Linked DNA regions of Homo sapiens. The protein of the gene in region 4 purifies or fractionates together with the protein of the main gene of each other region. This does not show direct contact. Each region holds a gene or a part of one and is shown on either strand. Other genes may lie near its edges.

Region 1 (4,367 bases), about 49 Mb from region 4:
CCCACCCCACCAGGGACCAGCTCACATGGCTGTCGTTGAGGTCATTGCTGGGGGAGTTCATGACCACGATGATCTCCAAAGTCGCGTCAAAGCGCCACCGCCTGGTGTCTGCACGCTCCCGGCCCCTCTCCATGTTGGGAGAGATGTAGATGTCCACGCCAGGCGTCCCATAGACCTCAAACATTTCTGTGCCCTCAGGCACTGACCTGGGCAGGGCAGAGAGCCATGGTCGGTGCCGAAGGAGATATATTTTGCTCAGATGTTTGAGCTTTGGCTCAAGCCCTGCTTCCTCCAGGAAGCTTTCCTTGGCCACCCAGTCCCCTCAGATCCTCACAGTAAGCTCCTGCGAGTCAAGCCTGGACCCCACACAAACATATACACAGTCGGCCGGGCGTGGTGACTCACTCCTTTAATCCCAGCACTTTGGGAAGCCGAGGCGGATGGATCACTTGAGGTCAGGCACTTTGGGAAGCCGAGGCGGGCGGATCACTTGAGGTCGAGCCTGGCCAACATGGTGAAACCCTGTCTCTACTAAAAATACAAGAAAATAGCCAGGCGTGGTAGCATATGCCTGTAATCCCAGCTACTGGGGAGGCTGAGGCAGGAGAATCGCTTGAACCCAGGAGGCAGAGGTTGCAGTGAGCCAAGATTGCACCACTGCACTCCAGCCTGGGCGACAGAGCAAGACCCTGTTTCAAAACAAAACAAAAAAACATACACACAGTCTGATGTTCTAAGCCCCTGTGTTCATTAACATTTCCCTTGTGAGTTTCTTTACCACTCACCAGAATGGCGAGCTCTTCGGAAGTCAGAAGCCAGCCATGTGCTCGATAAATCCCCAGTGCAGGTCTGGGCACGAAGAGCTCAGTGAACACCAGCCATTGGTGGGTGGAGCCCCTTACAGTTCTGAGAGCTTTAAAAAGAGCAATTCTCACCCCAGATCCCATCACATGTCTCCTTAGTGGGTGGGAAGATATCCTTGAATTCTTCCCTGGGAAGGGAATTCAATCTGGTTGAGTGCCCGCTGCATGCCAGGCACCTGGCGCACGCAGCTCCCTCCACTCTTACAAGCTGTAAGGTGAGCAATATCATCCCCATTTGGCATATTAGCAACTGAGGCTCAAGGAGGCCTCGTGACAAGCCTGAGGTTGCATCACATGGCAGAGCCAGATGTGCAACAGGTCTGACTCCAAGCCCATGCTGTTCCACAGCTCTGCAGTGTCACCCGGGAAACTTGGCCGGATTTGGTCAAACAACCAGAAATTAATTGCAGGTTTAAAGTATCTGTGATGTTATCTGGCCCTGAGATTGCATTTCCCTCATTCCACCTAGCCTGGGGTTCCTCCTTGGAAACCAGACTATGCATCCTTTGACTGTGGGGTGCCCACTGTGCACTCAGGTACTGCCTGGCGGGCAGATCCACCCACTGCTCTCCCCACTGTTGATCCCGCTGGGGAGCTGAGGACCAACATTGTCCAGGGCAGCCAGATGGGGCTCAAGGCCACAGGATCACAGCTCAGTGGGAACCCATGTAGGGAGAGGCCACTGCGAGTTGGAGGGCCTCCTGGAGGCAGCGGCATGCATGCCCCTGGGGGATAACAGTGACTGACACTTACTGAGCTCATGCTGTGTGCCAGCCCATCATGCAATCCTCTCAATAACCCTAGAAGGGAGGCACTATCTATTATTGTCTCCCATTATACAGATGAGAAAGCCGAGGTTAAGTAACTTGCCCAAGGTCTGTGGCCGGGCTGGGATCCAAACCCAGCCATGTGGCTCCTCAGTCCACACTCTTGCCCACCACCTCCCCAGGAGTAATAATAACAACAATACCATAACATAAAAAGCCCCCAGCCTCTGCACTCTTATCACGGCAGGCCTGCCTAAGCCTTTTTGTACATTAGCTCATCTGATCCTCACTGCAGCCCCAGGATGAGATAATTACTCCTGTTTACACATGGGGAAACTGAGGCACAGGATACGTAGGGGACTACCCCAAATTTCCACAGCTGGCCACTCCCCCCGCTTCCCATCTTCCCTCAGAGTAAGGCAGACCTCCCCCAAAACAACCTCTTCACTCTTCCACCAACATGATTCTCTTACATCTCAAAGCAGCTTTTTTATGAAAAGGGAAATAAACCAAGCCCAAGCTTCTCTCCATCAGGCAGGTCCCACTCTGGTGTCTGGGCCCCTGTCAGGTGTCCTCACCAGTTGGGAGGGACAGACACACCTGTTTCTCCTCCTAAGCAGGGCTGCCAGACTTAGCAAATAAAAATACAGAAAGCTCAGTTGGACTTGAATTTCAAGTGAACAGTCAATCATTGTTTGGTACTCCCGTGAAGTATTTGGGATACACTTATACTAAAAAAATTATTAATTATTTACCTGAAATTCAATTTTAACTAGGCATCTTTTATTTTATCTGGCAACCCTACTCCCAAAGCCTGTAATTTCCAGGGCTGGTGGAGCCCTCTGGCCTGTTTGGCCCTGGGCAGCCCCCCACAGGGGAAATGGCAGAACCAGGGAGAGAGGCATGAAGACACAGAGACAGAGAGATAGGGACAGAGAGACTTGGAGAGACCCAGCGAGATGGAGAGTCAGAGACAGGGAGTCGGAAAGAGACACAGGAAGACAAACCCAGGTAGGAAGAGCAGCCTCTCATACCCTCGGGAACACCCTCAGCCACGCTCCTGAGGCACTCGCCTTCCATCTCCCAAGGAAGCCTTTTTTTTTTTTTTTTTTTTTTTTTTTTGAGACAGAGTCTTGCTCTGTCGCCCAGGCTGGAGTGCAGTGGTGCAATCTTGGCTCACTGCAACCTCCACCTCCCGGGTTCAAGCAATTCTCATGCCTCAGCCTCCCAAGCAGCTGGGACAACACAGCCCACCACCGTGTCCGGCTAATTTTTGTATTTTCAGTAGAAACAGGGTTTCACCATATTGGCCAGACTGGTCTTGAACTCCTGACCTCAAGTGATCCGCCTGCCTCAGCCTCCCAGCTGGGATTACAGGCGCGAGCCACCGCGCCTGGCTGAAGCCTGTACACTTTTTATGGAACTCCCTCAACCCCAAAGCTGTTCCTTGGGCCTCCAGTGTCCATGGGCAAGGGCTGAGCGCCCTTGATGGTCCTTCTGGTATGAAAACCCCACTCAGTCCCCAGGCTCCAGCCCCTGGGTGTAGGGTGTTTCAGCCCAGCGCCCCTGCCTCTCCATGTGCCAGGCTCTGTGTGAGATGCTGGGGGATCCCCAGTGAAGACTGAAGCACCCCTGCCCAGGAGGGTCCCCAGGACCACGGTCTGAACAAGGGCTTAGCACAGGTGAACAAGCTACATCTGAGGTTGGGGAAGGGAGGGGCTGCAAGCCGAGGGCTCAGGTGGTGCTGGGACCAGAGTCAAGAATTAGGTTTTAGACCAGGCTGGGTCACACATCGGCCAGCTGAGCTTGACTAAATCACTTAGTCTCTCTGGGCCCATTAACCTCACCTTAAAGTGGGATAATGACACCTACTTGGCCAACCTCATGGGCAATCATGAAACTCAAGTGTGATAATAGACAGGAAAGGCTTGCAACACCATTGGCCCAGGACAGGGAAGGAGTTATTAAAGTAAATGAGGGTGCAGGAAACGGGTCTGGAGGCAGGATGAGACAGTGGGCTGGGTGGCTGGGGCAGGTTCCCCAGGGAAGGCACCAAGAGGAGACACAAGTGAGGGGAAGGTGTTTTCACCGTGGAACCTTAAGAGGTCTAGTTTAGACTCAGGCTATAATGAGCTTGTTTTCATTTCATCCCTATGTAATGGGGAGCCAGCGCTGGTTCTTGATCAGGAGGGGCAACATGATGGAGCCGTGGCAAGGTACTTGAGCCTGTGGTCCCTGGGGCCAGACAACTGGGTTCAAATCCCAGTCCCACCACTCATTAGGTGTGTGACTTTGAGCGAGTGACTGCCTCCCTCAGCCGCAGCATCGACATCTATCTGGTGGGGATGAGGAGAAGATGAAAGGAACCAGTGTGGGTAAAGCACTCAGGATGAGCAAAAGTCATGCCCTCATTTCACTGATGGGGAAACTGAGGCCCAGAAGATAAGTGACTAGAAGGTAGGGCTGCTGACTTCCAGTCCAGTGCTCATGCCTGTCATGAAAGCTGTGTGTTAGGAGAATGAGAGGGGCAGCTGCTGGGAGGAGAACCTGCATCAGGTACGGGAGGATCTAGCTTCCCATTTCCTAGAGAACAGGGGAAGTACCTGGAGCCTCACCTGGACAAAGTCCTTCCTCTCCAGGCCACCTCGAGCTGCCAGCATGGCTGAGCTGTCACATGCTGGCTTCTGGGCTTTCTAGGCAGTGCTTCTGGTCCAGTCCTGGGCTCAGGGCCTTGGAC
Region 2 (4,367 bases), on a different chromosome or scaffold from region 4:
GTGCCTTAAAAGTCTTAATATATCTCACTGAGGAAGCCAAGGCTAAACTTTCTACTTGACATTACAGGAGTTTTTCCCAAAGGGATTTTGGAGTCTGAGTTTAGCATACGATAATCATTTGCCACTTATCTCTGTCATTGAATTACTTTATCCCCCCTCTATTTCCACACTTTCCATCACAATCTACTCTCCATAATCAAGTGGCAGTGACATAAACCCTTTTGGGGACCTTTAGTAAGACCTTCGAAACTTGAGTTCACTTCTTTTTTCTTCTTTAGCTCTTTTTTAAAAAAATATTGGGCCAGGTGTGGTGGCTCACACCTGTAATCCCAGCACTTTGGGAGGCCAAAGTGGGCGGATCACAAGGTCAGGAGATCCAGACCATCCTGGTCAACATGGTGAAACCCCGTCTCTACTAAAAATACAAAGATTAGCTGGGCGTGGTGGCATACGCCTGTAATCCCGTCTACTTGGGAGGTTGAGGCAGGAGAATCACTTGAACCAGGGAGTCAGAGGTTGCAGTGAGCCAAGATTGTGCCACCGTACTCCAGCCTGGCAACAGAGCCAGACTCTGTCTAAAAAAAAAAAAAAAAAAAAATCAAATACATATATACTCCCTTTTTCATTAATAGTTTTGCCAGAATGTATGGCTTTTGATTATAAATCTTATTTTTAGGTCAGCATGGTGGCTCATGCCTGTAATCCCAGCACTTTGGGATGCTGAGACAGGAGGATTGCTTGAGCCTAGGAGTTCAAGACAGCCTAGGCAACAAACTCAGACCCTGCTTATCCAAAAAAAAAAAAAAAAAATTAGCCAGGTGTGGTGGCACACACCTGTGGTCTCAGCTACTGGGGAGGCTGAAGTGGGAGGATCATTTGAGCCCAGGAGTTATGATCATGCTACTGCACTCTAGCCTGGGTGACAGAGTGAGACCTTGTCTCTAAAATAATCGTAATAATAAATGAGTACATCTTTTTTGTAAGCTGAGATAGTGAGTTGCTGCTGTAGTATTTGTCCACAATTAAAACAATGTAGTAAACATATTAGATATTGAAATAGTTTCTAATTCCTAATAGTCATTCAAAATACATATCTTACTATGAACATTAAAAATACATATCTGAGCCAGGCATGGTGGCTCACACCTATAATCCCAGCACTTTGGGAGGTGGAGGCAGGTGGATCACTTACTTGAGGCCAGGAGTTTGAGAGCAACCTGGTCAACATAGCGAGATCCCATCTCTTAAAAAAGATACATACACACACATACACACACACACACACACATCTGTCTTAAAGTTTGAGTTCAGCTAAGGGGTCAGTTATGTTTCAGGAATGTCCATGCAGAAGAAAAGTGATTTATGTATTGAAAATCTGTGTCTGGTCAACATGAGAAGATCGTTTGAAGCTTGAATGGTGTGTTCTTCTGTCTACCTTGAAAAACTTGTCCCAAAGTGAGTTTTCAAGATACAGGATGTATGACTGTCTAATGCTTGTGAGGAGCTTAGCAAGAATGACCAGCGAATTGCTTATGAGTCTCATTAGCTCATTTACAGTTGCCTTAAAACATAGCTGCATTGGGCTAACCCAAATGCCTCATCAACATACCTGTACAGATTCAAATATATGAGAAGTCTTCCCTCTAGAGAGTGAGCCCTTGCTTAGTGCTGCCTTTACAGCACTGTGCATCTTCTGGATTGTTCCGTTCAGTGGAAGAGAAGCAATGACCCCTCATAACAGAGACCTAGATTGAGTTGCTAATTATTCAGCCAGTATACAGTATATACTATAGTGTGGTTACTGAGATACTGAATAGTTTAAGAGTTTCTGCCATAATTAGTACCTCACCTACTACTTAAAAAAAAATAAACAACCATAACTTAATTCATGTTTTCAAAAAAAATTTAAAGCTTGAAGGAACCATATTTGTAACAACAAAATGTCACTTAAAATGATGGAGCCTATCAATATATTGTTACCTATGCAAGAACTCCCTTTACAGAGCTTGAAGTAATGCTAGTAATGTGACACATAATATATTTTATTCATGATTTGTCATTTAAATGTGTTCAGAATACTGATGGATTCATAAATATCTCATGAAAGCATACATTTTGACAAAGTACCAGGAGGCCCAAGGACATACAAATGGGGCAGAGAATCAGAATCCATTTGCAGTGTCCCCGACCTCTCTCACTGGCATGTTATAGACAAGTAAAGGTTGCACCCATAGCTAACACACACAAAAAGAAACACAATTAACAAGTACCTTTTGTTTGTTACCTTCTCATAAATGGCAATTAAATGAGTAAAAGTAGGTTGGTGTTAAGCTTGGCAAAAGATACTGTGGGGAAGAAAGTTGGCTGCTGGTTGTGTTTATTGTTTGTGCCATTTCAAGCTAGCAACCCTAACTGAGTCTCAGTCATTAGAATTTAGGTTTATTCCAAAGGTAATATCGACAGCTCAAATATGAGATTTGGCCAACAGTTACATAAAGTCACCATGCAGAGTACACCTCTTAATTTTTTTCAAATTTGTTTATAAGTAGTAGCATAAGCTCATGATAGTCTTTGGATTCGTTTTTTAATCTTATGATTAGGATCAAGGGTCAAAATAATATATGCTGCATATAAGATAAGAAAATAGAGGAAGCATGTGCTTTATAATAACTTCAGACCATGTCTGTGAAAACATTGTTTCCCATCAATATTTGATTGAGAGATGCAGTTTATTCAATATGCACTATGTATCAGACACTGTTCTAAGTGCTTTACAAATATTAACCCACTACAGTTAATTTATAACTTTCCTCAGAGGTAGGCACTATTATTAGTCCCATATTGAGGAAAAATCAGGCACAGAGGGGTATGATTATTTGGTCAAAGTCACAGAGCTCATTAAGAGTGAGGCTGGGATTCCCCAGCCGGTGATCTTGAGTCCTTGTGGTTAATCACTGCAGGTAAATCCCTGCAAGTTAATCACTGTGGTTAATGGTGCTTTCTTTATATTCTTATATGAGTTCATTTAGCCTCTAGATCTCACAAGTAGAAATTAAAATACATATGATAAATTAAGTTTTGGTACTAGACAATTTCTACGTTAAATAGTGGAAAGAAATATGTTAATTAATAGAAATATAAGTTCATTAAAATCTTAGATGAAAAAAGATTTTAAAACAGAAATTCAAAAGTATATATTATAAATGAAAGTATCATGTGTAGATTCTGAGTTTGGGGCTTCTGCCCAAGCTGTGTCAGAAAAAAGCATTACCAAGAGGTGGACCTACTTCGTACCCCTTCTTCTGCCCTGACACAGGCAGGAGAATGCAAGGTCAGAGATAAGTGGTAGATGGGGGGCCCTCTAGTTGCTGCCCATGCTAAAGAGGCATGGCAGAATTTCTCAAGTAGTTGCTTTACCAGTTGCTGCAGAAAGCTGCTCCTGGCTGCTCTAACTTTAGGCCTCTAGAAGCCCTGCTGCTTGAATCCATTGGTTTTACCTCCTGACTTATTCTTGAGGATTCCCTGGCAATGAATACAGGTTCCACCTTACATTGACCTTACACTTCAAGGATTGTAAACCATTGCTGATACTTTATCCCACTTGAGGCTTATAAGGGTTCTGTGAAATAAGCCCATACCCTCATTCTGAGGATAAGGAAACTGAAGTTCATGGAAGGTAATGCAGGTGGAGGAAGCAGGACTAAAACTCAGATTTTCTGATTTTTTCTTAGCTGTTCTTTTGGGTTCTCTTGCATTGTGTACTATACCTTCACTCCTGGCCTGTACCCACCTTTGACAGGAGCCCAACTGACTCATCTGACTTCCTGATGACTATTCCCCTGGAAATCTTCCCTTAGTTTCATAAACTAACAACGATGAGACTGTCTGATCCCTAGATTGAGTGACTAGTTATTCAGCCAGCACCTATAGTCTGGTTATTGACATACTGGATAATTTCTGGGTTTCTACTATAATTAGTACCTCACCTACTACCTAAAAAAAGCCAACAAAAATAAAAATAACTCAATTCATGATTTTTTAAAAAGCTTGCACAAGCCATATTTTATAACAACAAAATGTCACTTAAAGTGATAGAGCCTATCAGTATGATATTGTACCTATGCAAGAACTCCCTTTACAAGGCTTGAAGTAATGCTGGTGCTGTGACACGTAATATAGTGTATTCATAATTTGTCACTTAAATGTTTTCATAATACTGATGGATTCATAAATATCTCATGAAAGCACAGCTTGAGTTTTTGCATCTGCTATTAGTAAAAGGTATGATAGTTGAAGCAACTGTTGACATTCACACTGAAATTCAATGTCTCCTTTATCATGCATGTCATTACAAACCTAAGAACTGG
Region 3 (4,367 bases), on a different chromosome or scaffold from region 4:
AACAGCTTTGTCTTTTACCCAGAGGAGCAAAAGCAAATCAGAAGGTATTCATCAGAAGTTACAGGGAAGTGTGTGTGTGTTTTGTAATTTAAAGGTTAGGTAACATTCCAACAGAAGACACAGATCAAATAAATATTTTTGATCCCTAGCCAGATTCTCAGTCAGTGGGTTCATATCAGAATCATCTAGGAACCTAGAATTCCAGATGTACTCAATTACTCTTTAAAGACATGTTCAAGGCAGGTGTCTTTTCAAAAAGCTTTCCAGGTGATTCTGACATCTACTTAGGAGTAATTGCTGTTGTGGACAATGGCCCCAGTTTTTTCCATGTAATTTTACAAATGTAATAAAAGTCAGATATATACCATACGTGAAAAAAATTTGGTGGGACTTTTGATTTGTCCGCAACAGGACTTAGTTTGAAATTGTTTTATATGATTTGTTCTTATATAATAATTGGTAATATATTGTATAAATTTTATTTTTTTTATAAAGAGTCAGGGTCTTGTTCTGTTGCCCAGACTGGAGTGCAGTGGTGTAATCATAGCTCACTGCAGCCTCAAGCTCCTGGGCTCCAGTGATCCTCTTGCCTCATCCTCCTGAGTAGCTGAGACTGTAGGCACATGCCATGGCACCCAGCTCATTTTTAAAATTTTTTGTAGAGATAGGGTCTTGCTTTGTTGCCCAGGCTGATCCCAAACTTCTGTCTTCAAGTGATCTTCCCACCTCAGCTTCCCAAAGTGTTAGGATTACAGATGTGAGCTGTCACACCCAGCCTAATTAAAAAAAAAAAAAAAAATATATATATATATACACACACACACACATACATATACACACACACACACACATATGTATGCTGTGTATAATTTAATGAAATCTTTTGGGGTGCAGTTTATTTTATTACATTTGTAATTATGTGAATAATACTTGAGAAGTTGGAAAAATTCAGATAACGAAGAAATTTTAAATCACCTTTACTCACTATCCAGAGGAATATAACCACTGCTAATATTTTATTGGATTTCCTTCCCTTTTTTTCTTTTCATACACAATAACACTTGAATAGAATTTGAGTCATTTTGTATACTGCTCTTTTCATTTATAACATTGTAAGCTTTTATTTCTGCTATTAAAAATATAAAATGTCCAACAATGATAGACTGGATTAAGAAAATGTGGCACATATACACCATGGAACACTATGCAGCCATAAAAAATGATGAGTTCATGTCCTTTGTAGGGACATGGATGAAATTGGAAATCATCATTCTCAGTAAACTATCGCAAGAACAAAAAACCAAACACCGCATATTCTCACTCATAGGTGGGAATTGAACAGTGGGAACACATGGACACAGGAGGGGGAACATCACACTCTGGGGCCTGTTGTCGGGTAGGGGGAGTGGGGAGGGATAGCAATGGGAGATATACCTAATGCTAGATGACGAGTTAGTGGGTGCAGCGCACCAGCATGTCACATGTATACATATTTAACTAACCTGCACATTATGCACATGTACCCTAAAACTTAAAGTATCATAATAAAAAAATGTGATTAAAAAAAATTTAAAATGTGACTTAATATTTCACTAGCATTTGAGAGACACCACAAAATTGGAGCATGTGCCTAAAATCATTTAATATCTTAGATGTCTCTGTTAGATGTGATGTGTTTATCACCCAGTCCTCCATTTTTTTGGAGGGGGCAGTACAGAGCACATCCTGTCATCAACTCTGTAAGCCAGTAAGTTAGCATTGAAGACTGAAGAGGAAGGGGACCAGGAAAGGAGCTAAAATTTGTTTAGGGTTCACCATGTACCCATATACATATTAAAGCATGGATTTGGAGCTGTGAAGACCTAGATTTGGTGCCCATACTCTCAATTAAGCCGTATTAAGATTCTTGTTAAAATCACTTTCTAGAGATGCCCAGTGAAGCCAAACTTGTCTTTAATTATATTGAATGATGTGAGAGCCCCTGGGGAAGAGAGTTTGAGTCTTAAAGCTCCAAAATGCTATACCCATTGGATAACCACTGAATGTGGGAGATTCAGGCCTGCAGCAGTAGAGGTCCACAGCCCATTTGTCAGTCATTAGATCTATAAGAAGTCGATGAATATTTTTAGAAAAATAGAGTACACAGGGGCACAGGCTGCTTCCCTTTGCTGTTATCTGTAGCATTTGCAGGTTCTGAGTGAGTTTTTGTGACATGTAATCCTAGGGAAACACAGGCATCTAAGAGACCAGGGAAATACATGTCATTACAGATGGGTATTGGACCCTGTGTAATAAACATAATGTTACTTGTTTTAACAGCTTTTTGTACCTGAACCTCGCCCAGTTCCTAAAAATGACGTTGGATTTAAATATTCTGTGAAACATCGGCCATTTCCTGAAGAGGTGGACAAGATTCCTTTTGTGAAAGCAGATCTCAGCATTCCAGATTTGCATGAAATAGTCACTGAAGAAGTAAGTACATTATTTTTAGCTGTTGTCAAGGGGATGAATAGAAACATTCTTACGACTTCCTTGGTCAAGACAATGCTTTTAGTGTTGTTGGAGATGATTTTTAAGATGACATGGGCCTCCATCATCCAGGAGGTTGCCATGTTTAAGACGAATATAGATTGTGGCTGATCGAAAGGAACTGCATATCTCTTAGAGGTGTTGCTGGGCTGCCTGGCTGTTCGTGGTAGGTTTCAGTACTGTAGTGACATGATCAGACTCTGGTAGTAGAGTTATTTGGAAAAGGAAGACCAGTTCAGAGACTATTATGAGAATCTAAGTCTTTATAAGAAAGGAAGGACTATTTCACTCATATGGAATTTTAATATATAAAATGTATTGTGGAGGTAGATCCAAGCAGTCTTGAATTGGTGAGGGAAGGAAAAGAGCCAAAGAATTTCAGATTTTGAGCTTGAGTGACAAAGAGATATCAGTGCCATTTACAGAAATGCAGACATTAGGAAGAGGATAGATTTGGGAAGATGGGAAAAATTTATTTGGCTTTGGATTAATTTAGAGAGTTAATTAAGATAACTGTCTCTTAGGTCAAGGGAGAAGAATTTTAAGAAGTCGGGGACAGAAGTATGTCAGGACATGAGAGAACAGAAGAGCAGGAATGGAGGAAGGGCTACACTCTCCAATGCTGGAGAGACCAGGGAGAAGAAGGAATAGAAAAAGTCCCCTGAATTTTGGCATGAAATTTAGGTGACCTTTGAGAACAGGTGTGTACAGTAGGAGGGATAATTCAAAGGGCTGGGGAGTGAATGTATTGAGGGACAGGCAGTGAATAGAAACTACACTGTTAACAGTAAAGGCAAGGGTACAGAATGGGTAATATTATAGCTTAAGGAAATGGCCTCGTTAAGGAAAGAAAAGGCTGATTTTTTTTTTTTTTTCTGAGATGGAGTTTCGCTCTTGTTGCCCAGACTAGAGTACAGTTGTGCATTCTCAGCTCACTGCAATCTCCGCCTCCCGGGTTCAAGTGATTCTCCTACCTCAGCCTCCCAAGTAGCTGTGATTACAGGCGCATGCCACCATGCCTGGCCAATTTTTGTATTTTTAGTAGAGACGGGATTTCACCATGTTGGCCAAGCCGGTCTCGAACTCCTGACCTCAGGTGATCCACCCTCCTTTGCCTCCCCTCAAAGTGCTGAGAATTACAGGTGTAAGCCATCGCACCCGGCCAGAAAAGGCTAGTTTTTAAATATTTTTTTACATTCAAGGATGTGAGGATTATGAACATGCTTATAGATTGAAAGGAAGAAACCAGTAGAGAGGAGTCTGGCTAACACTGTAAGATGGGCAGTGGGACTTACAAGTAATAGAGGCAGTAGGGTCAAGAGTCTAGTCTAGAAAAGAGATGCTTCTAAGACAGAAGGAGAGAGTAGGTGAAGGTTCAGAGACATTTAGAGAGGAAAGGAGGGAAATTGAAGAAGTTTATGAAAATTTTAATCCTGGTTCTTGGCAGTGTAATAGGGGATCCCAGACAGTTCTTAAGAATTGCCAGGCAGTGCAGCTGAGGTTAAGTAGCATTATCTATAGTGAAGTTATTTAACTCACTCTGCTGACTTTCTTCAAAAGTCCTTGGGATCTGGAAGCATAAGTAAAGAATTTGACTGGTGTGGAGATTGACAGGTGTGGAAATTTGGAAGGAGGTTCAACACAGCCATTTAATGTGCTTAAGGAGAGGGTATTTAGCTGTTAGATGTGGGGGCTTCAGTTTAGTTGGGAAGCAGATAAAGCCAGAAGGATGCTAATGGAGTGGGAAAGCAGGGGGAGGGATTGAGTGCCCCACCGCAATAGTAGAGCACGAGCTCAGGAAGTGAAGGGATAGGAGTTGCACAAGGGGGCTTATGATT
Region 4 (4,367 bases):
CAACAATTTAAATAAATGTTTTCCAAAGCAGAGGATGCATAGACTCCCTTGAGAAACTTATACAAAGTACAGATACCTGGGTGGCATTCTAAACCAATTAAATAAAATTTAAAAAGTATATTTAATATATATATCTGCTAGGTCCTAACACCCCCCAAAATACATATATGTATATTTAATAATGATCTCTACCTATATTTACATATAATACGCAATATATTATATTCACATATAATACGCAATATATTATATTCACATATAATACGCAATATATTATATTCACATATAATACGCAATATATTATATTCACATATAATACGCAATATATTATATTCACATATAATACGCAATATATTATATTCACATATAATACGCAATATATTATATTCACATATAATACGCAATATATTATATTCACATATAATACGCAATATATTATATTCACATATAATATATTCACATATATTATATATTATATTCACATATATCATATTATATTCACATATAATATATCGTATTATATTCACATATATCATATTTATATATTTGCATATTTTATATAATATTTTAAACTATTTGTATAAATATTTATATTTAAAATATTTGTATAAATATTTATATTTAAAATATTTGTATAAATATTTATATTTAAAATATTTGTATAAATATTTATATTTATGAATATAATGTGTTATTTTATATGTTATAGATTGTATAGGTTTTATATGTATCTAGGTTGTATATGTAAATATTATAAATAAATATTTATATTATTTAAATATGTATACACATATATTTCTTTTTAGCATCAATTCAGAACCAGCATTTGATTGAGAAATACAGTCAAGTTTGAGATGTCCTGATTTTTATTAAAGTACAACTTCCTTCATTTGAAGAAAAATAATCTGAACATATTTAATAAAAAATTATAATGCATTAAAAACGTGGTAAATGAAATGAGCCAGGCACAGAAAGACCAATACCACACGATCTCACTCTTTTTTTTTTTTTTTTTTTTTTTTTTTTTGAGACGGAGTCTCGCTCTGTCGCCCAGGCCGGACTGCGGACTGCAGTGGCGCAATCTCAGCTCACTGCAAGCTCCGCCTCCCGGGTTCACGCCATTCTCCCGCCTCAGCCTCCCGAGTAGCTGGGACTACAGGCGCCCGCCACCGCGCCCGGCTAATTTTTTGTATTTTTAGTAGAGACGGGGTTTCACCTTGTTAGCCAGGATGGTCTCGATCTCCTGACCTCATGATCCACCCGCCTCGGCCTCCCAAAGTGCTGGGATTACAGGCGTGAGCCACCGCGCCCGGCCCACACGATCTCACTCTTATGTGGAATATTTAAAAGTTGATCTTGGCTGGGCACAGTGGCACTTTGGGAGGCCAAGGAACGGGGATCATCTGAGGCTGGGAGTTCAAGACCAGCCTGGCCAACATGGTGAAACCCCGTCTCTATCGAAAATACAAAAATTAGCCAGGATGATGGTGCATGCCTGTAATCCCAGCTACTTGGGAGGCTGAGGCAGGAGGATCGCTTGAACCCAGGATGTGGATGTTGCTATTAGCCGAGATCGTGCCACTGCACTCCAGCTTGGGCAACAGAGGGAGACTTCATCTCAAAAAACTAAATAAAATAAAATAAAATAAAATAAAATAACATAAAAATAAAAGTTGATCTTATAGAATTAGAGAGTAGAATGGTGGTTACCAGAGGCTGAGGTAGTGGTGGTGGGGTGGGGTGGGGGTTTGTTTAGAGAGATGTTGGTCAAAAGACACAAAATTTCAGTTAGATGAGAGGAATAAATTCAAGAGATTGATTGCATAAGGTGGTGACTGTAGGTAATAACCATATACTGTATTCCTGAAAAATGCTAAAGTGAATGGAAAGTGTTCTCATCACAAAAATAACTATGTGAGGTAATACGTATGTTAGTTTAGTCATTCCATAACGTACATATATTCAAAATATCATGTTGTACCTAATACAGACATACAATTGTACCTGTCAATTTAAAAAATAAAAAAGTTTAAAAAAATCTAGGGAGTCAGCTGGTGTGGTGGCTCATGCCTGTAATCCCAGCACTTTAGGAGGCTGATGCGGGCGGATCACCTGAGGTCAGGAGTTCCAGACCAGCATAGCCAACAGGGTGAAATCCCGTCTCTATTAAAAATACAAAAAATTAGCAGGGCTTGGTGGTGCATGCCTGTATTCCTAGCTACTCAGGAGGCTGAGGCAGGAGAATCGCTTGAACACAGGAGGTGGACATTGCAGTGAGCCAAGATTGTGCCACTGCACTCCAGCCTGGGTGATAGGGTGAGACTCTGTCTCAAAAAAAAAAAAAAAAACCAAAAAAATCTAGGCAGTCAAGTGGCTGGGAACCAATGAGAGACTCAGGCACTATCAGGATCCTGGTATGAATTAGGCTTATTTAGTATATCAATAATAATTTGAGATAAGGGCAATTCTAGATACAAAAAGAAAGTTCTCATATATTGTAAGTATCAAACATTCCTTTATTATTGAACTATTTCTTAGTGTTAGATTTTATTAGAATTCTTTCATAGGACTATCTTACTAGAAAAACAAAAGCAGATTGTGTACCTTGAATCATTTAAAATAAGAGGTTTTAGTATAGTAATGTTCTTAACAAAATTATAATCATCTTGTTTATCAATATAAACTTATAATCTTAATTAGTATAATGTTTTGCAACTTCATTTTTTTGTGGCACATTTCTCTAATTTTGTGATAAAATATTTTACTTGTAAGCTTAAACTAATAAGAATATGTATGAATATTTTTGTCAGTAGTCCCCAAGTTATCTTTTAAAGTTTCCATTTAAAAAAATGAGTTATAGCTTTTAAATACTGTTAAAAGAAGTGTTACTTTAGTTACTTTTATTCAATAGTAGGTACTTTAGAAAACAAATATGTCATGTGGAAGAGATACCGATCATGTAAATAGGCTTACCTGATATTTGAGCATGTCAACGTTATAATATGTAGCCTGGGGTTTTTGTTCAGACACTTTCTTTAGGTGAGTCATCAAATTTGGCATGTTTACCCAGAATTCCTTGGTATTGGCATCATTTTGTGTATTATCACTGTTCATTTGGGAAGAAAAATGATTGAGTAGCATCTTAAAACAAATATAAACCCTACACGAAGCATCTTAGCAAATTGTCGTCTGATATGTACAGCCATTTTTTGACAATTTGTAGAGATTATTATGAATCTATTAACAGTAGTGTGGTTTTCATACAAATACAGTTCTGAATGCTATGGTGTTGGTAGATTAATATCCACGAGGAGGAGCTACTGTGTTGCTATCAATCTCAGTGAGTGCTCAGTAATATTAACTAATTGCGATGATAATTGGGAGCTTTAAAGAGTGAATTATTTATTAACTCAAACTTAATATCCCTTTCTATGAAACCAGCTTTGTCTAAATTAGTCAGTTAAGGCAATTAAGGAACTGAATACGTTTATTTACTTTTGAATTACTTTGACCAGTAGTTTCTCAGAAATTATCCAGTGAAATATTTGGCCAAATGTAAACATGGTCTTTATCACCAACTAAGCAGAAAAGAGTGATACTAAAATTACCATGCTGCCTTTTCAGCATTCATAATATTTCATCCATGAGCATTTAAATCATCAAAGATTTCACTTCACTTATAAGATGATCCTGGAGTTTAAATGATAATTTTGGTAGTTATAATACAGAAGAAGAGCAGAGTCTCTATAAGCTAAGAAGTTTTATATCCCTATGAGAGTCTTAGCTTTGCTCAGAGGCCTGTATACAGACCACTTACCCAATCTATCTTGCAAATGCTCATCTCAATGATAAAAAGAATCAGGCAAGAGTGTACAAACATATAACTCATTTCCCGTATAATGAGGAAGCTGAGGCCACAAGTGATTCAGTTACTTGTCACACACATTTGCTGACAGTTCACTTTCAGAATATCCTATATAGTGCAATAACAGTAGTTACAGTTTCTTAACCACCTATTATATGCTAGGCATTATAAACTATTTCATTAAAATCTACCCTGCAAAGGAAGAATTATTGTCTTTGTTTTTAAAGATGAGCAAACTTGTTAAAAAAAAAAGAGAGAAAATTAGGGGTTGAGAAGAGAGAAGGCTGATACAGTGAAAAAGTGAAAAGACAGGTCAAAAGTAAGTTGCTATGATTCAGCCTCCAGAAGTCTCATAAATCAAGAAAGCTGAGTAAAAAACACCAGGGCTTTAAAACTGTCACTGATCTGTTAGGAAAGAGTGGCCAAGTCTCAGTGTGACCAGTGTGGTTTTGCTGTCCCTGGATATAAAGTTATTGAGGATGAGGCAAAGCTCTTTGGCCCT
Region 5 (4,367 bases), on a different chromosome or scaffold from region 4:
GGCCAGGAGTTCGAAACCAGTCTGGCCAACAAGGCAAAACCCATCTCTACTAAAAATACTAAAAAAAGAAATTAGCCAGGCGTAGTGGTACATGCCTGTAATCCCAGCTATTTTGCAGACTGAGGCAAAAGAATCGCTTGAACCAAGGAGGTGGAAGTAGTAGTGAGCCAAGATTGCACCACTGCACTCCAGCCTGGGCAACACAGCTGTCTGTGTCAAAAAAAAAAAAAAAAAAGTACACAAAGAAATGAAGAGCACTGTAAATGGTACTACATGGGTATGAGACTTTTTATTACTTAAAAATCTTTAAAAGATCACTACTTGTTTAAACAAAATAATATAGTGTATGGCTGATAACATGATAAGTAAAATATATGACAACAAAAGCATAAAGGTTGGGTGAAGAAATGGAAGTAAATTCTTACAAGGTTCTTATACTACATGGGAAGTGGTATAGTATCACTTAAAGGTGTACACTCTGGCAAGTTAAAGATGTATACTATAGGCTGGGCACAGTGGCTCACCCATGTAATCCCAACACTTCAGGAGGCTGAGGCAGGTGGATCACCTGAGGTCAGAAGTTCGAGACCAGCCTGGCCAACATGGGGAAACCCTGTCTCTACTAAAAATACAAAAATAAGCTGGGCGTGGCAATGCGTGCCTGTAATCCCAGCTACTTGGGAAGCTGAGGCAGGAGAATCGCTCTAACCTGAGAGGCGGAGGTTGCAGTGAGCCAAGATCGTACCACTGCACTCCAGCCTGGGCAACAGAGCGAGACTCGGTCCCAGAAAAAAAAAAAAAGAAAAAAGGTATATACTATAAATCATAAAGCAGTCACTGAAATAATAAATCGAGGGAAAATAATCATAAAATTTACTCAACTAATTCAAAAGAAGGGAGAAAAAAGGGTACTAAGGAACAGACAGGCCAAACAGAAAACAAATAGAAAGATGACAAACTCAAACCTAACCATATCAACAATCATGTTAAATGTAACTATCCAAACATCTCAATTAAAAGGCATAGATAATTAGGTTAGATAAAAAAGACCCAACCATATGCTGCCAACAATATAAACCCACTTCACATATAAAAACACAAGTAGATTTAAAAGATGGGAATATATATATATCCTGCTAACACTAATCAAATGAAAAGTGGCAATGGCTATATTAATATCAAAGTAGATTCCAAAGCAAAGACTATTACCAGGGAGAAAGATATCATTTCAAAATGATAAAGAAGTCAATTCATCAAAAAGAAATAATCCTAAAGGTTTAGGCAGCTAATGACAGAGCTTCAAAACATATGAAGTAAATACTGATAGAAGTTCAAAAGAAAACAGACAAAACCCACAATTACAGTCAGAAACTTCAGCCCTCTTCTCTCAGTACTTGATGAAAACAGCTAGACAGAAATTCAGTAAGGACAGAGAAGACTTGAACAACACTAACAAGCAACTCGTCCTAATTGACATTTTTCGAACACCTAACCTACCAAGAGCAGAATATATATTCCTTTCAAGTGCATACAAGAAATTTATCAAGTTAAAATGTCTCTGGACCATCAAACAAATTTCATTAGCTTTTAAATAATTCAGGTTATAAAAAATAGTGTTTTCTAACTACAATGGAATTGAATTAGAAATCAACAACCAAAAGGTATCTGAATAATCCATAAATATGTGAAGCTAAAGAACAGACTTGTAAATAACCCATGGATTAAAAAAAATCAAAAGGAAAGTTGAAAGTATTTTGGAACTAAATGAAAATGAAAATACAAAATATTCTAAGTTGTGAGATGCTAGTTAGGGGAAAATTTTTTATCACCAAATGCCTACAGTAGAAAGAAGAACAGTTTCAAATCAATAATCACAGCTTCCCTTTATGAAACAACAAAAAGAGCAAATTAAACTAAACTAAGTAGAAGAAAGAAAGTAACAAAGACTGCCAGGCATGGTAGCTCACACCTGTAATCCCAGCACTTTGGGAGGCCCAGGCTGGTGGATCACTTGAGGTCAGGAGTTTGAGACCAGCCTGGCCAACAAGGTAACAACCTGTCTCTACTAAAAATACAAAAATTAGCCAGGCGGGGTGGCGCATGCCTGTAGTCCCAGCTACTCGGGAGGCTGAGGCAGAAGAACAGCTTGAACCTGGGAGGCGGAGGTTGCAGTGAGGCAAGATTGCGCCATTGCACTCCAGCCTGGGCGACGAGCGAAACTCTGTCTCCTGCGTCCCGCCTCCAAAAATAAAAAAGAAAATAGCAAAGACCAAAGCAGACATCAATTAAAAAAAAAAAAAAAACCACACACACACGGAAAAATCAATAAAACCAAAAGATAGTTCTTTTAGAAGATCAATAAAAGCGATAAGACTCTAGTCAGGCTGATCAGGAAAAGAAAGACAAATTATCAGACAAGAAACGAGAAGGATAACATTACCATGGGTCCTGCTATATATATATACACAGACACACACACACACACACACACACACACACACACACACATTTGAGATAGAGTCTCGCTCTGTTGCCCTGGCTGGAGTACAGTGGCATAATCTTGGCTCACTGCAACCTCTGCCTCCTGGGTTCAGGTGATTCTCCTGCCTCAGCCTCCCTAGTAGCTGGGACTACAAGCATGCGCCACAAGGTCCAGCTACTTTTGTATTTTTAGTTCACACAGGGTTTCAGTATGTTGGTCAGGCTGGTCTCGAACTCCTGACCTCTAGTGATCCACCCGCCTTGGCCTCCCAAAGTGCTGGGATTATAAGCATGAGCCACCATGCCTGGACATGAATCCTATAATATTAAAAGGATAATAAGAGAGTATAATCAACAATTTATACCTATAAATTTGACAACTTAGATGAAATCTTCTGTTTATACCAACAGAAACAGAAAAAGCATTCAATAAATCCAACATCCATTCCTGATAGAAACCCTCAGCCAACCAGGAATAGAATGAAACTCTCTAAATCTGATAAAGGGCATCTACAAAAAACCTACAGTTAGGATCATATTATACAGTGAAAAAAATCAATCGATTGCTTTACCCCTAAGATCAAGAACAAGACAAGACTGCCCACTCTCATTACTTCTAATCTATGTCACATTGGAGGTTCTAGTCACTTCAGTAAGGCAAGAAAAAGAAATAAAGGGCATCCAGATTAGAAAGGAAGAAGTAAAACTGTATTTGCAGACTGATTCTCTATGAAAAATATCCAAAAGAATCTACAAAAAACTAACAGAACTGGCTGGGTGCTGTGGCTCACACCTGTAATCCCAGGACTTTGGGAGGCCAAGGCAGGTGGCTCACGAGGTCAGGAGTTCGAGACCAGCCTTATCAACATGGTGAAACCCCGTCTCTACTACAAACACAAAAATCAGCCAGGCTCAGTGGTGTGTGCCTGTAATCCCAGCCACTCAGTAGGCTGAGGCAGGAGAATTGCTTGAACCTGGGAGGCGGAGGTTGCAGTGAGCTGAGATCATGCCACTGCACTCCAGCCTGGGCAACAGAGTGAGACTCTGTCTCAAAAAAATAAATAAATAACAGAACTAAGTCAGTTCAGCAGGTTTGTAGGACATAAGCTCACTATACATAAATCAGTGGTATTTCCTGATATGAGATCCAATCAGAAATAGATATAAAGGTAACATTTACAAAAGATCAAAGTAGAAAGTATTTAGGTATAAGTCTGACAAAAGATGTATAAGACCTGCACACTGAACTACAAAACACTGCTGAGAGAAATTAAAGAAGTCCTAAGTAGGTGGAGAAACGCCTTGTTCATGAATCAGTGTATTCAATATCGTCAATTTTCCCAAATTGATCTATAGATTCAACATAATCCCAACCAAAATCCCAATAGGTTTTTTGGTGGTGGTGGGTTTTTTTTTTTTTTAAGAAACTGACCTTTAAAAAAAAAAATACAGTGTCACTGTGTCACCCAGGCTGGAGTGCAGTGGTGCAATCATGGCTCATTGCAACCTCGACCTCCCAGGCCCAGGTGATCCTCTCACCTCAGCCTCCCAGGTGACTGGGATCCCAGGCACACACTACCATGCCCAGCTATTTCTTTTTTTTCTCTTTTTTGGAGAGATGGGGTTTCAGCATGTTGTCCAAGCTGGTCTCAAACTCCTGGGCTCAAGCAATCTGCCCACCTGAGCCTCCCAAAGTGCTGGGATTACAGGTGTGAGCCACCACACCAAGCTCAACTAATCTTTAGACTCATATGGAAATGTAAAGGACCTGGCATTTGGGAAAAAAAGAAACTTTGAAAAGGAAGAACAAAGTAGGAGGGACAACACTACTTGATTTCAAGATTTATTATAAAGTTACAGTAATCAAACACTGCGGTACTGGCACC
Region 6 (5,156 bases), on a different chromosome or scaffold from region 4:
TCATGATACCCATATGGAAAATATTTTTTACATTATCTTGGATCCATGATATATATTTACTTAGCATATTGGAGGGAAAAATGAGAAAACAAACAAAATCTTCCAGGTATGTAGACAGTATGTCAAAGTCAGGAGTAATATGCATTGGTATCTGAAGCTACCAAATGAAGGCATTTGACTGAAAAAAAGTTTGACCATAATGTATAATTGATTTACACATACTGAGGCTCATTCTAAAGCCCTTTTTTAAAATTGTAATTTTTTAAAAGAACAAATCATTTGAATGGTTAAGTAAACTGACTATTAAGAAAGAAAACTGGCCGGGCGCAATCCCAGTGCTTTGGGAGGCCAAGGCGGGTGGATCACAAGGTCAAGTGATCGAGACCATCCTGGCCAACATGCTGGAACCCCGTCTCTACTAAAAGTACAAAAATTAGCTGGGCATGGTGGCGCACACCTGTAGTCTCAGCTACTCAGGAGGCTGAGGCAGGAGAATCGCTTGAACCTGGGAGGCGGAGGTTGTAGTGAGCCGAGATCATGCCACTGCACTCTAGCCTGGCAACAGAGCAAGACTCTGTCTCAAAGAAAGAAAGAAAAGTTTTCATAACAAAGTTTACAGGTTCTTTTTTAATCAAAAGAATAAATACATTGAATATTCATTATGTCTGTATTTAAAATTGCTAAAGGAATGCTTGAATTGAATCTCGATAACATGAAATTTGTTAAAAATAAGTCCCTCAGGAAAAGAAACATTTTAGCATGCTACCCAGATATTAGTCAAGTGCAGAGAATTTCAAAACATAAAGTTATATTCCTTTCGTATTCATCTTTCCTAAGCCAGACCATAAGTGTAGAATCTTATATCTAAGCCACTTATACAGTCAATTTGGATTAAGTTCCATTGTGAAGTCTACATTGCACTCTTATGGGAGGAGCTAACCTGCCACTACTCACTAAAACATGATACTCCGTATCTTAAAAGTTATGTATACTTTAACATCTCAGTATTAAAATTTGAAAATAATATCAATTATTTTCCCATTTTAAAAGTTTTAGTTTGGCTATATTCATATTGTCCAGAAACTAAATCTTTGTTAAGTAGTAAATGTCCATTCACAAAGGTCATTGAGAGGGACTGAGAGAAAAAACTTTAAAAGTTTACACTTTAAAATTACTTTTAAATACACTTCTAAAATGTAACATGTTCTAATACCTTAGTCTGTGTTAGTCTGTGTATATGAAATACTGTGTGCCCAGTATTGTTCTGGGTACTTGGAGGAGTACGGGTGCATACACACACACAGAATACAGAAAATCAACCCATATAAAACAACTATAGAACAAAGGATTATCAATTCTGAAATGACAAAATTTTAGAAATGGAGAAGAGATTAGTGGTTGTCCAGGGTTAGGGATAGCAGGAGGTGTGTGTGGCTATAAAAGGGCAAGAGAGAGGATCCTTGTGACAATGAAAGTGTTCTGTATCTTGACTGTGCTGGTGGTGGATACGCACGGAATAAAATTCTATAGGACAAAACACACACACACACGAACAATTAAAAGGAGGAAACCTATATAAGATCAACGAATTTTTATCAATGTCAATGTCCTCCTTGTGATATTGCACTACAGTTTTGAAAAATGTTACCATTGGGGAAACTGAGAAAAGGGTACACGGGATCTCTCTGTATTATCCCTTACAGTTGTGAATCTACAATTATTTCAAACTAAAATGCGTTTAGAAGATTATAAAATATACTTTATTGTAAATACATGCCCCCCAATAAAAACACACAAGGAATAAATGCCAAAAATCCTAGTGACAAAACGAAGTATCACATAGGTGCAGTAGTAATTCCCCTCAAAGAAACCCAGAGTAATCATTACACTTAAGTATTCTTGCTGTCAACATGTTAATTGTTTAAATTATGTGTTAGTTTTAAAGATCACATCCTATAAACTGAAGATTTCTCATGACACAGTAGTGATAAAATGCTACCTTACAGTTCAGATGGTGGTAGAATCATCCAAAAAAAAAGAAGAAGAAAGAAGAAAGAAGAAAAGAAGAAGAAGAAGAGGAAGAAGAAGAAGAAAGAAGAAGAAGAAGAAGAAGAAGAAGAAGAAGAAGAAGAAGAAGAAGAAGAAGAAGAAGAAGAAGAACCATTTTCTCTTATCAGTTTATGTTATGAGATAAGAAGATCTCTCTCCCTCCCTCTCCCCCTCTCTCCCCCTCTCACATCTGCAAGAGTCCGGACTGAGGAGTAGAAGGAACGCGCCATAAGGATTTCGCAAAGTCTGGTCTCTACCTACTTGGAATTTCTTGGAAAAGATTCAAGCATATCATTCCCCTTTCACTAAAGCAAGACGAGAAATCACGTCTAAACCACTGGAATTGCTTTGCTGTGAGGAAGTCGAAGGTGATCAAAGGCAGGGTGGCATGCAAAATGGCACTTGGATAAAATGGGTCTCATTAGGGTAGAGTCCCATTCACGTAAAATGACTCCAGGCAATTCCTAGGGCCTCGACTTTCAACCTGACACTTGCCTGTGTGCAATGAAGATGGAAACAGGGACAACGCGCACCTCCCACAACCATCTGGAAGCTTCACCCTCTCGGCCTGACCCCCAAAGACCCGCTGAAAAGAATGGATGCTTTTGCGAACTCCGGTCCCCACACTGCGGCTCCCCAAGAGCTCCACGGGCAGGGCAGCGGGGCGGAGGCGTCGGGGACTCAGTGCGCGGGGGGCGACGGGGGTTCGGGCTCCGGGCTCACCCGCGTTCTGCAGCGTCTCGATGTTTTGGGGTCTAGTCGCCAGCTCCGCCACCATCTGCACGAACTGGGTCCTGGCCTTCTGGTATTGCTCGAACACTGCGGGAGAGAGAGTCGGTGGAGCCCACCGCACCCGGGTCTCCTCGGCGCCAGCTAGTTAGGGCACCTGCCCGCCTCGGCCCTACCTTGCAGCACCTGCCTCTGACTCATGGCGCCCCCGCCGCCGTCTGCCCTCCTCGAGCTCTGCGGGGAAGCCGCTCGGCCTGCGAGTCCACCAAGGGGGCGATCGTGGCGACGACTCGGCCTCCGACGGGAGCCGCTTCTCTGTGTACCCGCGTCTCCCGGGCAACCTACCGGAACCGGAACGCGGCCGTCTTGCTGCAACGGCCAGTCCCGGGCGTGACGTCACGGCCGCGGTGCCTGGGCGCACTGAGCGGGGCGGCGGCGCGAAGACGCCCGAGCTCGAGGACTCGGACTGCTGGGGCTCTCAGCGCGCCAGGCTCGCGGAGCCGCCGGGACATCGCGCGCCGTCGAGTATCCCTGCACTGCCCGGAGGTCGGAGCTCCTTACAAAGCGACCCCAGATTGCCGTGGTATCCTGACTGCGGCGCGGGTCGGGACCAAGCGCCGGGAGAGCCCCACGCGCCAAGGGAGCCTGGTTCGAGGGCAGCCAGACGAGTAAATTGCAGCCCTGGAGTTGTCTGAGCTTCGACGGTCCCGAGAAATCTCACACGTCACATTGTACAATCCGATCAACACATGAATGTCAATGCAACTTAAGTGTTGCATTGACATTTAACACTGCACTGACAGTAAAACACTGATTTAGGAATCCGTGTTTTCTTTTGTAACCCGCTGTTATATACCTGGCATTCCTGGTTTCAAGATTCCTGGAGGAGCATGACAACCATGTTCACACACTTAATTACACTGTATTGAAAGCATTTAATGAGCACTCAGAGACTCAGTGAGGAAAGCAGATGAGGAAAGGATGTGATGAATGTCCTGTCTTCCCTGGCTTTCTCCTAATGACTACTAATTTTGCTGTTTCCTCACTTTTATGTGATTTGTAAATATTTTGTCTTAGTCTTTTAAATTTAGGCTTCGTTATGTTGATGAATGACATCTCCAACAGAAAAAGAGAGAGAACCTTTACCTGGAAAACCAGACTTCCCTATCTTATATAACTTGAACCCTTTACCCAGTTTCTTTTAACAAAATTGAAGTACTTAGTCTATTACTGGTTTCTAGCTTGTCTTTGAAAACTATATACCAGTTGTTTCAATGACAGTTGTCAACTTTAAATGTTCCTCCATCAAAAACTACAATTTCACCAGATGTCAAGTGGATACATAGCCGCAGCTGCTGCTAAGTAGTGCCAAGACAGGAAACCCCTTGATATTTCTTCAACAGAAGGGAGCATGCAAACTTAACTGGTTCTATATTTGGAATGAGTCCTCTATATTTATCTTTGAGATCTCACCCTTCACTGAGCTCTTGATGAAGTCCTGATACTTTGTGGAGCTCCAAATAGTTGGGGAATGGTCCAGCAATCAGAGAGAAGAATAAGTGTGTTTAGTCGGGTCCCTAATACCCCCGAAGGGCAGGTACATGTCTTCTGCTTCTGCAGCTCAAAAGCCAGTGATGGCCACAATCTTTTTACTTAATTCAAAGTCGTAAGTTTTACAGTGATATCTATATTTCCCTATGGGAATATGTCCTTTAAAATTAAAGTTATGCGTTCCCATTTAGAGACGTGGGAGGAAACAGATTGAGTAAATAATTAAGATTGCAAATAAGCCTTGTAATTTTCAGTTCCTTGTTGAATGATGAAAAAAAATCCCCTTAAAAGTTTTTATATTTGGTTTCAGTCCTTAAACAAACAATTCAAACTCTTAAGCTACTCCAACTGCCATTTTTAGCAACTGCTTTACTATTTGTTTTCCATTTTAAAAGTGTTAAGAGCTCAATAGAGGGGGAGAGGTCTAAACCTATAAACATAACACAGTATGGGATGCTACTAAGTTCTTTGAAAACATACGTTCAAAAGCTATGTAAATTACTTTAGAGTCTGAGTATCTGTTATTAACAATATCTTTTAGTTAAATTGTATTATTCCTGATAAAACATAATATAGGATGCCTACTTCATATCTGAAATTGGACATATTAAAGAAGCTTGATCTTTGCTCTTTATTTTAGGTTCCTTCTTAAAAAAATCTTAAAAACTAAATGGAGAAATGTATGTAACACAGAGTGATTACAATATGCATATAAGTGAAATTATTAGTAATTCAAGCATAAAATATGGCAGATTACTTTTACTGACAAGAAAACCAATCTGTATTTTCTGACCCATTTTTCAATGTACTAACTCTAAAACAAAATA
Region 7 (4,367 bases), on a different chromosome or scaffold from region 4:
TGTTTCTGTAGTGTCCTATTTATTTACTTTTAAAATTTCTGTCTTCTTGAGTTTCTTGTGCTAGTTTCAGTCATTTTGTTTGTTTGTTTGTTTGTTTTAATCAATAGCCCAGAGTTAGAGTTTTAGTATATTGGGAATTCGTGCCAAACATTTGATGGAGCGACACAAGAGCATGAGAAGCTGGTATAAAGAGCACTAACTGTGGGAGGCAAGTTCCAGTTCTGGCATCAGCTAACTTTGTAACCCTGAACAAATCACAGAATGTCTGATATAGCTATGGGATTGGGTTTTCATGATTTCTGACTCAAATGAGAGTATCTTTGTGTAGGAGCGGCTAATCTATTCCAGCCACACCCCTTTAAAAGTAGCACAAAGTCTTGTGGTTAGTTGCTCCACTATCTTGACACTGGAACAGGATTATTTGACATTCTTTGAGGAATACAAAGAGGAGATATATACAAGAGGAAACTGATGAAAGGGTCATAAATCCATGGGTGCTTAGTTCTTCAAGGTCGTGAGAATTTGAAATGGGTGATAAGACTTGTCATTTCTGATGTTTTCCCTTATATAGGTTTTATTTTCTGTAGCCTTTCCTATTATAGATGCATCTTCACTCATCTTTTCCCTCTGTGTAAGAAATTTGTCTAATGGAAGTTAAACTGTATACCAGATTTCATTGAGATTTGATAAATTCTAAGACTTAGGCTTTTTAAAATTAAGAATACTACATCTCTTCTGCATTTTGTTTCAAGAATTAGCCAGGTGTTGAATTTGGGGTCTGTCTCATTAAATAATGAAGACAGAATTTATTAGTCTGTCTCTTTTGGGCTGTTGATTCCGTTGAGATTCTGCTGCACGCACTGGACATCTGCTTAGAAAACATAGTTCCACAGAATTTTGCACTTAATTTGTGATTTCCAGCCTTCCCCTAATTGAGTCAAGCTCATCTTATGGACTTCTACATTAATTCAGTTTTAAGGAAGAGCAGGCTGACCTGTGAAATGCTAAACACTTCTGTCTTAAATCAGTTTTAAATACTTTCAACAAAGACTTCTTTGTGGCTGTTCTTTGTATTGGGGGTATACATGCAGTGGTGAAGGATCAAGACATCTTCTCTGACTTGTGCCAATGTCGAAAAGAAAAAGAACTGGCCAGGCGTGGTGGCCTGCACCTGTAGTCCCAGCTACTTGAGAGGCAGAGGCAGGAGGATCACTTGAGCCTGGGAAGTTGAGGCTGCAATGAGACATAGTAAACATAGTAGTGTCATTGCACTCCAGCCTGGGTGACAGAGCAAGTCTCCGTTCCCCCCCCCCCCCGCCCCACCCACAAAAAAAAAAGGAAAAAAGAACTGTGTACAATAATAGAGAATCATTGGGTGGTAGAATCAGAGGAGGTAGTGGGGACCTACTTAGGTGTAAGGGAAGGCCCCTTAGAGGATGCCTGGATGGGGGGTCAGGGGAGGGAGAATAAGGTGTTTCATATAGAGAGAACTGGGAAGGGCCTGAGGCTGTGAAGAGCACAGTGTGTTTAAGGAACTGAAACTGTGGACAAGAGGGGAGAATGGCAGGGACTGCATAAGGCAGGCCCTTGTACTCAGTGATAAGGAATTTGGATTTTAGTGGAAATATACTAAAAGTTTTTATTCGGGGGTGTAGCATCATCTGAATTATATTTTAAAAGATCATGCTGACTGCTGTATGAGCAAAAAGAATACTGGGGGCAAGTGGAAGCAGATACGCTAGTGGATATGCAACAGTCCAGGCAGCAGACAGCAATGGCTTAGATTAGCGAGGTGGCAGTAGGATAGAGAGCAGTGGACATCTGTGAGAATTTTTTAGGTGGTAGAAATACGAAGGCATAAATAGGGTTGGATATGGAACATAAGGGAGGGGAAAGAACTCAAGGATGTTGCTGGAAGTTGCCACTATTGGATGGTTGGAAGAGGAGTGGATTTTGGGGGGGATTGTTTCGTGGGAGAGGTAAGGGTGAATTCAGCAGTTCCCCTTTTGTCTATCTTAGTTCTCAGAAGCCTGTAAGATTGTCAAGTAGGCCTGTTAGAGAGATCTATACATCTTGAGGAATTCAGAGATACTTGGCTTAGAGATGTCAGTTTGAAGATTGTCACTATGTTAGTGATACTTAAGGTAATGAAATAATTGAAGAAAAGATTATAAAGAAGAGAGAAAGATTGACTAGAACTGGAATCCTGAGGAATGCTGAACATTTCTAAGTTGGGTAAACTGGAAGGCTTCTTGGAAGGACGCTAGGAAGCACACAATCAGAGTGGTACAAATTGGGAATGTGTAATATATAGTATTATCATGTCGTGGATGCCAAATAATGCAAGTATTTCAAGGGGGTGGGTAGTCAGCTGTATTGAATTTCACTGAGAGGCTGAGAACATGTGGGCAGGAATGTGGCCATTGGATTTGGCAACCTGGAAGTTATTAGTAACTTCAGTGAGCCAGTTTCATGGACTAGTGTAGATGGATGCCAGATTTGAGTGATTTGAGGGATAAATGATGGCTGAGGAACTAGAGACAGGGTGTATAGATAGCTTTTAAAGAAGTTTACCTATGAAAGGGAATAGATACAGGGTAGAAGCTAGAGATGTATGAGGATATAAAGGAAATCTTTTTGTTTGTTTCTTTTTGAGTGTGAGAAATTCTGCAGAATGATTTTAGTTGTTAGGATTGCTAAGATAAGGGAGATGAGAAGTCCTTGAGAAAGCAGGAGTGGTCAGGATCCTGACTGCACAGAGTCCTTTGATAGGAAGGGGATACTTCTTCAGTTTTTTTTTTTTGTTTTTTTTTTTTTTTTTGTGATGGATTCTCGCTCTGTCGCCCAGGCTGGAGTGCAATGGCCTGGTCTTGGCTCACTGCAACCTCCGCCTCCCGGGTTGAAGCGATTCTCCTGCCTCAGCCATCAGAGTTGCTGGGATTACAGGTGCCTACCACCACGCCTGGCTGATTTTTGTCTTCTTAGTAGAGACAGGGTTTCACCATGTTGGCCAGGCTGGTCTCGAACTGCTGATCTCGTGATCTGCCTGCCTTGGCCTCCCAAAGTGCTGGGATTACAGGCATGAGCCACCGTGCCCGGCCACTTCCTCAGTTTTAACAGTGGGGAAGAAAGAACAACATGGTTACAGACGCAAGTAGGAATATAGATTTAGTGGGTGGAATATAGATTTAGTGGGAGGATGTTCTGGCCTAATGGCTTTTATTTGTTTTCTACAAACTGAGGCAGGATTAACAGTGTAGTAGTAACATAAAATCTTAATATGAAAGTAAGAAAAAAATACATTCACATTAGCTTCAAAGAGGCCTAACATACTTGGGAATAAACTTAAGAAAAGAGTCACCAAGATTTTTGTATTTAAAACTACAAAACAGGGCTGGGCACAGTGACTTATGCCTGTAATCCTAGCACTTTGTGAGGTTGAGGCGGGCAGATCACTTGAGCCCGGGAGTTTGAGACCAGTCTGGGCAACATAGGGAGACCCCTGCCTGTAAAAAAAAAAGATAAAATAAATTAGCTGGGTATAGTGGTGTGCACCTGTGGTCCCAGCTACTTGGGAGGCTGAGGCAGGAGGATGGTTTAAGCCTGGGAGGCAGAGGTCAGGGAGGCAGAGGTCAGAGAGACCCGAGATTGCGCCAATGGACTCCAGCCTGGGCAACAGAGCCAGACCCTGTCTCAAAAAAAAAAAAAGAAAAGGAAAAGAAACAAATAATTGGGCTTTATTAAATATTTTTAAAACTTTTACAATTGAGAAGATACTTAAGAAAGTATAAAAAGATAAGCCACAGATTGGGGAGAAATATTTGCATATTATAAACATGGTAAAGGTCTTTAATCTAGAATATATTTGAAAAATCTTACAACTCACTTATAAGGAAAAAAAAAAAACTGGGCGAAAGCCCATTCTTAGGCTTAAGCCCATTGAATAGGTATTTCACCAAAGACAACAATAAGAATGGCCAATAAGCATATGAAAAGATGTTAACCCCATTAGTCATTAGGGAAATGCAAATTAAATCACAGTGATATACTATCACACACTGACCAGAGTGGCTGTAATTAAAAAGACTGACAATACCTAGTATTTGTATTGTTGAGAAACTGGAACCCTTAGGCACTTCTTGGGACTGTAAATGACACAGCCACATTGGGAAACAGTTTGGCTTTTTCTTAAAAAGTTAAGCATAAATTTGCCATAGCAACCAGCAGTTCCACTCTTAGGAATCTGCCCAAGAGAAATGAAAATACCTGTACAAATAAAGAAAGGTATGTACATGTCTGTTAGCATTATTCACAATAGTCAAAAACTGGAAAGCAATTCAAATATCCATCACATGGTGTTTGAATAC

Evidence for each region.
Region 1: the proteins of SGIP1 (region 4) and PADI3 purify together in Homo sapiens (affinity purification with mass spectrometry; one large-scale study listed by BioGRID and IntAct). This does not show direct contact.
Region 2: the proteins of SGIP1 (region 4) and CRYBG1 purify together in Homo sapiens (affinity purification with mass spectrometry; one large-scale study listed by BioGRID and IntAct). This does not show direct contact.
Region 3: the proteins of SGIP1 (region 4) and RALGAPB purify together in Homo sapiens (affinity purification with mass spectrometry; one large-scale study listed by BioGRID and IntAct). This does not show direct contact.
Region 5: the proteins of SGIP1 (region 4) and RALGAPA1 purify together in Homo sapiens (affinity purification with mass spectrometry; one large-scale study listed by BioGRID and IntAct). This does not show direct contact.
Region 6: the proteins of SGIP1 (region 4) and SPAG6 purify together in Homo sapiens (affinity purification with mass spectrometry; one large-scale study listed by BioGRID and IntAct). This does not show direct contact.
Region 7: the proteins of SGIP1 (region 4) and REPS1 purify together in Homo sapiens (affinity purification with western blotting, with the first as the bait; one study listed by BioGRID). This does not show direct contact.

What each region holds. Positions count from the first base shown.
Region 1 is NC_000001.11:17,255,417-17,259,783, reverse strand, and holds part of PADI3 (protein-arginine deiminase type-3), read right to left. Parts: intron 2,539-4,367; exon of another isoform or gene 786-2,538; intron 207-785; coding exon 26-206; intron 1-25. UniProt on the Homo sapiens protein: Catalyzes the deimination of arginine residues of proteins.
Region 2 is NC_000006.12:106,367,008-106,371,374, forward strand, and holds part of CRYBG1 (beta/gamma crystallin domain-containing protein 1), read left to right. Parts: intron 1-4,367. UniProt on the Homo sapiens protein: May function as suppressor of malignant melanoma. It may exert its effects through interactions with the cytoskeleton.
Region 3 is NC_000020.11:38,548,752-38,553,118, forward strand, and holds part of RALGAPB (ral GTPase-activating protein subunit beta), read left to right. Parts: coding exon 1-44; intron 45-2,319; coding exon 2,320-2,472; intron 2,473-4,367. UniProt on the Homo sapiens protein: Non-catalytic subunit of the heterodimeric RalGAP1 and RalGAP2 complexes which act as GTPase activators for the Ras-like small GTPases RALA and RALB.
Region 4 is NC_000001.11:66,732,487-66,736,853, reverse strand, and holds part of SGIP1 (SH3-containing GRB2-like protein 3-interacting protein 1), read right to left. Parts: intron 3,107-4,367; coding exon 2,974-3,106; intron 1-2,973.
Region 5 is NC_000014.9:35,798,776-35,803,142, forward strand, and holds part of RALGAPA1 (ral GTPase-activating protein subunit alpha-1), read right to left. Parts: intron 1-4,367. UniProt on the Homo sapiens protein: Catalytic subunit of the heterodimeric RalGAP1 complex which acts as a GTPase activator for the Ras-like small GTPases RALA and RALB.
Region 6 is NC_000010.11:22,343,435-22,348,590, reverse strand, and holds the start of SPAG6 (sperm-associated antigen 6), read right to left. Parts: upstream 3,096-5,156; 5' UTR 2,980-3,095; coding exon 2,955-2,979; exon of another isoform or gene 2,869-2,954; coding exon 2,773-2,868; intron 575-2,772; exon of another isoform or gene 458-574; intron 1-457. UniProt on the Homo sapiens protein: Important for structural integrity of the central apparatus in the sperm tail and for flagellar motility.
Region 7 is NC_000006.12:138,977,635-138,982,001, reverse strand, and holds part of REPS1 (ralBP1-associated Eps domain-containing protein 1), read left to right. Parts: intron 1-4,367. UniProt on the Homo sapiens protein: May coordinate the cellular actions of activated EGF receptors and Ral-GTPases.